2 linked regions of the Homo sapiens genome follow. The protein of the gene in region 2 purifies or fractionates together with the protein of the main gene of each other region. This does not show direct contact. Each region holds a gene or a part of one and is shown on either strand. Other genes may lie near its edges.

Region 1 (3,800 bases), on a different chromosome or scaffold from region 2:
AATGGCTTAGTGGTACAACCAGGATTCTGACCCGAGACCGTTCCCGTCCTTCAGCAGACTAGCTGGCCAGTGAGCCAGCAGAGTACTTAGAGCATCTCAAAAATGAAGGCATCGACAACCCTCCGCTACTGAGGCCCAGGCTCCACACCCACCTGCCCCATGAATGGCCCAGTACCTTTTTTACCCTGAAACTCCCACCCCTGCAATGCAGGCAGCCCCTCACCTGTAAGGTCCGCTCCTGGTGGACACCCACGAAGTCCAGGGCCTCAGGCAGGAAGTTGTAGCGCAGAGTTTTGAGCAGCTGCTCCATCAGGGACATGGACAGGCGGTAGACTCCTGGCCAAGAGGGGGCATCCAGGGACTTCCGAGAGGCACTAGGTGTCTAAGATACAAACAGCAGACAAGCTCAGGAACCCTGCTGAGAGGCAGGACCTCCTTGTAGTACAGCAACTAAGGCAGCCCAGCTGCGCTGAAAGGAAAAGATCTCCCAGAATAGACACAGCCACTGTCTGGCCACCAGGGCCAGAAAGGGGCCAACACCAGCAGATTCAAGGAAAGAGCACCAGGCTGAGACACAAGACCCAGGGTTCCAGACTCAGGTCTGCCACTGACGAGCTATGCGAACCTGGACATGTCACTGCCCTGCTCTGGCCCCTACATACTTCCTCTAAGGGGTAGCTGGGCTAGATGACCAAATACTTCACGACTCTCATGAGAGAGAGAGGTTCAGGTGAAGACTACTCTTTTGAAATTAGGAGGTATCTGTTAAACTAGAAATAACCAAGGGACACAGAGGGCAGGGTGCTGAGGCCCCATCAAGCCCCCAGACCACCCACTTCCCTTCTCCCAGTCCTGGTCTGGTGGTGCAGGGGTGGAGAAGTCACAATGACACACTGTCTTTGGGAATGACAGGAGAGGACAGCTGCCTTGGCTAGAGGCCTGGTCCAGGGATGTGTTATCAATCTGGTTTAGTCTTCCTCACACCTGCAATGGGAAGAATCCATCCCATCTCCCAGAGGTAGTGCACAAAGGCCAGGCGGTGCCTTTTAGTGGTGAGTTTCTCTTGCTAGAGATCCGCCTGGGGGCAGGGAAGATTCCTCACCATCAGTGTATTAGGCAATTTAGAGGAAAGCAACTTCCGGGGAAAGGTAGGGGAGGACACTTTTCAACTGGAACTGTAGGGTGGTCAGGCTGGGCCTCCTGGCAAGCTCCTGACACTCACCTGTGCTGTGCCGTTGGTGCTCAGCTGGTACACACTCAGAAGGGGCAAACAAATGCTCTGGGTGATGCCAGCTCCAGCCACTGCTGTGGCTCCCTGGGAGGAGGGAAAGACAGGAAATGAGATGGAGCCTGCCCCTGCCCTGCCTAGGGTAGGTAGGGCTCTCAGGCTAGATCACAGCTTCTGGGATTGTCAGAACCCACCCAGGCAAGCAAGGACGCTCCCTCCTGCCTTCGGGCTGGCCTCCTACCTGCTGAGTGCGAGCCAGGGTGAGGAGCAGATGCAATGTGGCCTCAGTGAAATGCAGGTTCTGCTTCATGCGAAGGCTCACCTCTAGAGTGGTGAGGAGGGTGGGTAGGATGGGGAGCCTGCGGGTTACCTGCAGCCAGGAGTCACCATCCTCGTCTACCTCACACAGCTCCTTGGCCAGGTGCAGGCCCAGGACACACACCTGCCCAGAGGCAAAGATGAGTAAAAGGGGGAAGAAGAAGAGGAGGAGGAAGAGGACGACAGGCAGCGGTGGGCCTGGTTGCCCAAGACCTGCTTGGTTACACACATTGCTAAGTGAGCTTGAGTAACACAGAATGCACACTCTCTCCCACCCTGCCCCTCTCCTATGTCCAGCTCTCAATGAACAGCAGCAACTCCAGCCAATCTAATGAGCAACCCTAAACTGACCAGAGCTACCCCCGCCTCTTCCCTCCCACCTCCCACACTGCCACCACCCTTGTCAGAGCCACCTCGTCTCATGTTGGACACTCCAACCAACTCTGCCACATGGAGTCTGAGGGACCCCTACGACCCTGCCCGATGCCACCTCCTGCTCTGCTACTGCAACCATCTCCTAAATAATCCTGCTCCATCCTCTCTAATCTATCCTTGTACCAGTGGCCTTTCAACCTTCTTTTTGGCCATGACCCAGAGTCATAAAGACATTTTTTTTGAGATGGAGCCTCGCTCTGTCCCCCAGGCTGGAGTGCAGCGGCGCGATCTCGGCTCACTGCAACCTCCGCTCCTGGGTTCACGCCATCCTCCTGCCTCAGCCTCCCGAGTAGCTGGGACTACAGGTGCCCGCCACCACGCCCGGCTAATTTTTTGTATTTTTCATAGAGACAGGGTTTCACCGTGTTAGCCAGGATGGTCTCCATCTCCTGACCTCATGATCTGCCCGCCTCGGCCTCCCAAAGTGCTGGGATTACAGGCGTTAGCCACCGTGCCCGGCCCATAAAGACTTTTTAGACTGTATCCTCATGTACACGTTTACAGTTTTTCACTAATAATACCTACCCTAATGTCACACAAAGCACAGTGATATTTTCTTAAACACTTTATTCTACTTTATTTTAAAAAAATGCTGGTTGTGGCCAGGCGTGGTGGCTCACGCCTGTAATCCCAGCACTTTGGGAGATCAAGGCGGGCGGATTACGAGGTCAGGAGATCGAGGCCATCCTGGCTAACACAGTGAAACCCCGTCTCTATGAAAAATACAAAAAGTTAGCCGGGCGTGGTGGCAGACACCTGTAGCCCCAGCTACTCGGGTGGCTGAGGTGGGAGAATGGCGTGAATCTGGGAAGCAGAGCTTGCAGTGAGCCAAGATCGCACCACTGCACTCCACCCTGGGCGACAGAGCGAGACTGGTTGTAACAAAATGTGCTAATTTCAAGACTCTCTCTAATAGGTCATGATCCCACAATTTGAAAAATACTATTCAATACTGCATCCAGAGTGATCTTTCTTGGGCACGCCTGTAATCCCAACACTTTGGAAGGCTGAACTGGGAGGATGGCTTGAGGCCTGGAGTTTAAGTCCAGAGTGATCTTTCTAGAGTAAAAATCAGATCAACTTTTTCCCCTGCTTAAAAGCCTTACATCATTTCCTATTTCACTTCGGATCCTGCATTTGCCCGCGGCTACAATCTCTAAGTCATTGCTGAAAAGGCACCTAAGTCCCAGTTCAAGTCAGAAGTGAGACTAAGTTCTCCCTGCACTTCTCTCCTGCAGTACAATGGGCTGCTTCTGCTTTTCTGCAGTGTCTGATCTATTAACCTTTCCCACCAGGCCGTGAACTCCAGAAGTGCAGCGACTATCTGTCTTGATCACTACTTATCCCCAGAGTCAGGCACAGAGCTGGCGGGCAGTGGAAAGGACGGATGGCCTTCTAGGGCACTGTCTCACCCCATCACGCTGGTCCCTGTGCCGGGACCGAGAACAGTCGTCAGTCTCCATGCTGTCCTTGTCCTCTGTGGCACTGCCTAATGCCAGACTGTGGCGGGTCTGGTCGAAGAGTGCAATCACTTCCTCTTGGAGGGTCTCACAGACATTCAGCACCAGCTGGGAGTACTGGGGGATGTCACTTACTGTAGAATAGACAGGGAGGGACACTGTCATGCTCACCAGGCCAACTCTCACTGTACACCAAGGTTTCCTTCCTAGGAAGGGGCTGGAGATGTACTAGGGCGCTAGGAGGGACAGCATCTGTCCAGTGGGAGAGGAGGGAGAGACACATGAGGGAAAAAAATAGCTTTCTTGGGGTAAGAATTCCATGACTGGAAACTCAAAAGTCCCAGAAGAAATGTGTGGCC
Region 2 (4,403 bases):
GGGACTTTCATACATCGTCTCTAAACCTCACACAAAACGACATTCTCCTCATTTAGAGATGAGCAAAAATGAAGCTGAGAGGTGAACTTGCCGAAGGCCCCCCAAATAGAAGCCAAGCCAGAATCCCTACCCCGGCCTGCCTGAGGCCAAAGCCAAGTGCTCTTTTCAATGAGTACCAAAGATCCCAGTTCAATCAAAATGTGGGACTTGGGGGTCCCACGTGCTAACCTTAGACAGTGGAGCCACCCAGAGTCCTGCTCGTTGATGGCATCTGTAGAAGAGCAGCTGGGAGTGTGGGGGCCTCTGGCTCCGGGCCACACAGGCAGCAGGGTCCAGCCAGGCTGGAGGCCGGCTGGTGCAGACAGTAAGTGAATTATGAAACGAGGCAAGTCATCCAAGCAGGCTGGCGTCGGTGGGCAGGGAACTTTGCCCCGCTTCGCCTTCTCCTGTTCTGTTCACAGTGCGACTGCCTGGCCCTCTCTCCCTTTCTTCCTCCTGTCTTTCTGCTTTCTCTTCTGGTCCCTTTTCTTGGCTTTCTTCATCTTTTCTCCCTCCCTCCCTCTTTCCCTTTCACCCTCTCCCCTACCCAGCCCCACCCCCGCAGTTACTGTGGCAACAATTCAATGCCAGAAATAAAGGCAGAATCCAGCTAGGTCACCAGTTCCCAAAACAGCATCCTGGGTGGGGAGGGGCAGGGAGGGTGGAGCAGTGCGGCGCTGCAGGGCAGGGGCCAGGCGCTCCCATGGGTGCTGTGCATGCGTGTGATGTGGGTGGGGTAGGGCACCTTGCTCCCCGCACCCCCCCGCCACTGGAAAAGGACACCAGGAGGCTGAGGCCTGCTCTGGGCCAGTGGCTCATCAGAGGTGTCCCTTACTTAGGCGAAGCCTGAACTCCAAGTCTGTCCTAAGGCTGGCAGAGCCTGGGGACTCCCTCCTCTTCTCCCACTTTCTCCCTCTCCCCTACTCCAATGTTTTTTACCGTTGTGTCTGCTGGGATGAGGGTTCCCCTAACCCAGCACTACAGGGCACCCTCTCATACTCGGATAAAGGACCAGGCCTGGGTGGGTGGGGAGCCCAGAGTCCCCCTGCTCAAGGCCTGCCCTCCCTTGTTCTCTCAATAACAACAAAACCGGGCCCAGGTGCCCCCTCCTGCCTCTCTAGCCCACCCAGAGACGCATCTGTGCAGCCATCTTCTCCTAGGTCTCTCTCTGGTTTGGTTTCTATGTGCCCTCTCCACCCACCCTCTGAAGAGACCCCGCTTTCTGCTTTCTGCATCCTGCAGCCCCCTCAGGCGGACTGCTTCCCCTCCATTTATAGCTGGTCCTGTTGTACAAGTGGGACTGGCAGAGCTGGGGGAGATGCAGCCTCAATTCAGCTTTCTGGATCCCAGGGCCTCCCTGTTCCAGTCCCACAACACCCAGGAGCTCTAGGAGAGGGATTCTGCAGACATCCACCCACGGGTGGACAACCTCACCCAGGAGTCTAACGCCTGACCACAGAGAGGCCGGCAGCACGGACACAAGATGGACAGGTGGGCACAGGCAGAAGCGCCCGCGCTGAAACCGTTGCAGGACGCATGCACGCGGGGAGACTCCGAAGCCCTGTGTGCCAGCTCATGCCCCCACTCTCCCATCGAGGCCCCCTCACTGTGACACATGGTGCTGCCAACACCCGCTCACACCCACCCACCGGTCCTCTCCCTGGCATCCATCCCAGAGTAGTGCACGTGTACAGCAACATACACAGAGCCCTCCACTTACCCAGCTCTGGAGGCCTTCCCTGGGCTCCCCATTCCCACAGCCCAACTGCCTTCCTTGTCTTGGACCTGTCCCTGCTCCCCTGACTCTCACAACCAGGCAACTGGTCCCTGGAAGGGACACACTGGGTGTGTCTGCCCAAGAAAGGGGGCTGGACCTGCTAGGCCCTGAGGGACAGAGCTAGGGAGGGGGAGCCCCAGAACCCTGTGGGGGCTGCATGTCTGCTCAGCCCTGGCCCCTTCAAGCACCCCAGCGGCGGGCACAGGGGGAGTACTGGGCTTGGGCTTGCAGCTGCGCCCTGCCACAGCCTCACTCTTCACTCAGCCCCACCCCAGCCTGGCCAGCCACTGGCTGGGGGCAGGCTCTCCTCCCACTCCCCCTAAAAAGCAGGCTCCAAACAAACAGCCTCAGGCCCCTAAATGTACTGCTCCAACCCCCAGAGCATGTGGAGTGGTTTTGGGGAGGCCAGCGGGCCAGTATTCAGCAGAGAGGGAATGCTCCCCTGCCCACCCCGTGCCCCCACAGTCCATCCCTTCCATTGCTGGCCTGCTCAGCTAGGTAGGCCAGGCAGAGATGCTGGCAAAGAGGGGATTGGGCTGGGAGCAGTTCTCATCCTTGGGATGAGAACACCCCAGGCCCTCTTCCCCAGATCAGAAGGTTCCATTAGATCAGGCCCAGCTGGTCCCAGGGGCCGGCCCATCCTCCCACTGAACAGGGCCCACAGTGGGCTCCCCCCAGATACCCTGCTGCCACCCAAAGCCTGGCTCGCCAGCAAGCGCTGTGGCCCAGAGTGCCCACAGAGGGGAGGAGAGGCGGAGACCCTGCCACCTACCTCTTCCCAGACAGTGTGGCCCAGACGCTCTGAGGCCACAGAGGCCCGAGAGGCGTAGGCCAGATCCACGGGCTGTCACTTCCCCCAGGAGCCTAGGTAATAGGTGTCTCTTCCAGGAACCCCGCGGCGCTTCCCCGGAGCACAAATAACAGGAAAAATGCCGGCTTAGGGTGGGTGGGCGGGGTGGGAGCTGGCGAAGGAGGGGAGCTGGTCTCGGCTGAGCGGTCTGATCTCCCCTCTGGGCCCCCACCCTCCTTGCCCCCACCCTGCTTCTCTGCAACGCACGGCCGCCTGGATCCCCCGGTGCTGGGGAGTCCTCGTCTGGGGGCGGGAGGGCGGGCGGGCTGCTGGCTCCCCCACGCCCTCCCCGCGCCCTCCCCACTTCCAGCTGATAGCGTGTGGCTGGCAAGGGTGTGTGTGTGGATGTGCGCGCTCTTCCACCAGCGCTGCAGCTCAATCCATTTCAAACAAGAGGAGCATTAACCCAGCGTCATGACAAAGCAGAATCAGCCAGCACTGTCCTCTCCCTTTCCCACACCGCAGTCTGCAGCACTCACACGCACACACACACCCACACGCACCCAGAGCCCCTCAGCCTCCTCCTAAACAGCCAGAGTTCAAGTTGCTGTGGGCGGTGGGTCGAGGGAGGGGGCTACTGATGACCCAGGCGGACAATGCCTGCTTTCTCCAGGCACCTGCACCTCCTACCCTATTCATGACCACCCCACCATCTGACAGCAGCAACTGAGGCCTCTGGGGCCCAGCCTCTTGAGGTGGGGGTGCAGGCACAGGCCAGAATTGGTTACCCAAGGATGAGCTCTCTCCTGGGAGGGTAGAATGGAGGGATGCAACCAGGTCCTCAGTACTGAGACTTGAGCTGGCCCCTCAGTAACCTGAATCCCCTGGGAACTCCAATGGGATGCAGCAGAGAGAGAGAAGGACCCCATCTCTCCCTAGGGTGGCTTCATGAAAAAGGAGCTTCCTGCCTGGTAACCCCTGGGTCCCAGCACAGAATTTACAGGCATGTGCCTTCCCTGTCTCTAGCAAAGCCTCAACCACCCCAGGAGCCTCTCATTGGCCTTTCGGGCCCCCTGGGCAGGATGGGGAAGGACAACAAGCCTTGCCCTCGACCCTCGCCCTGGCCCCAATGTCCTCTCCACCTCCACACCGCAGACTTGCCTACCTAGGCAGCCCTCACCGTTGCCCTGGCAACCCTGCCCCCAGCCGGTCAGCTGATGGTATCAGCTGTTGTTGGGGAAATCTAGAATCTGGGGAGGGGGCTCTGGGGTGTCTGAATGGAGAAGCACAGGGGGAGGGGCTTGAGGGAAGAGGCCAGGAGGGGACAGAAAGTATCTGGCTGGTGGGGACAGAGAGGACAGTAACCTGAGGGATGGGCTCCAGAGAGAAGGGAGGAAGGAAGGAGGCAGGTGGCTGAGAAGGGAGACAGAACACAGGCTGAGCTGCTGCAGCCAGGCGGGGGTGGCTGTGAAGGTAGAGAAAACCTGGGGGTGGGGGATGAAGCATCAGATCCATGGAACTGCAGAGAAAAAGGCCAGGAGAGTGATGTGGGAGGGGGCATACCTTCAATGTGGCAGAAAGGGGCACAGCCTTGGAGGAGGAGCCACTCCAGCCATCGCTCCACAACCAGCCCGGCCTCAGCCCAGCCTCTCGGCTTTCTGTACCTTCAACCCCACCCTTACTTCCCTCTAATCAGAGTCTGAGAGACAGAGGGGAAGCCCCAGCCCCACTCCAGCCCTAGATGATCTCTCTCGGTCCCTCCAGCGGACCAGGTACTTGGGGCTTTGACACCTCAGC

Evidence for each region.
Region 1: the proteins of DMTN (region 2) and NUP188 purify together in Homo sapiens (affinity purification with mass spectrometry, with the first as the bait; one large-scale study listed by BioGRID). This does not show direct contact.

The regions. Positions count from the first base shown.
Region 1 is NC_000009.12:128,999,399-129,003,198, reverse strand, and holds part of NUP188 (nucleoporin NUP188), read right to left. Parts: intron 3,576-3,800; coding exon 3,394-3,575; intron 1,671-3,393; coding exon 1,470-1,670; intron 1,316-1,469; coding exon 1,223-1,315; intron 383-1,222; coding exon 224-382; intron 1-223. UniProt on the Homo sapiens protein: Component of the nuclear pore complex (NPC), a complex required for the trafficking across the nuclear envelope. Required for proper protein transport into the nucleus.
Region 2 is NC_000008.11:22,055,322-22,059,724, reverse strand, and holds the start of DMTN (dematin), read right to left. Parts: upstream 2,912-4,403; 5' UTR 2,589-2,911; intron 1,862-2,588; exon of another isoform or gene 1,760-1,861; intron 646-1,759; exon of another isoform or gene 229-645; intron 1-228. UniProt on the Homo sapiens protein: Membrane-cytoskeleton-associated protein with F-actin-binding activity that induces F-actin bundles formation and stabilization. Its F-actin-bundling activity is reversibly regulated upon its phosphorylation by the cAMP-dependent protein kinase A (PKA).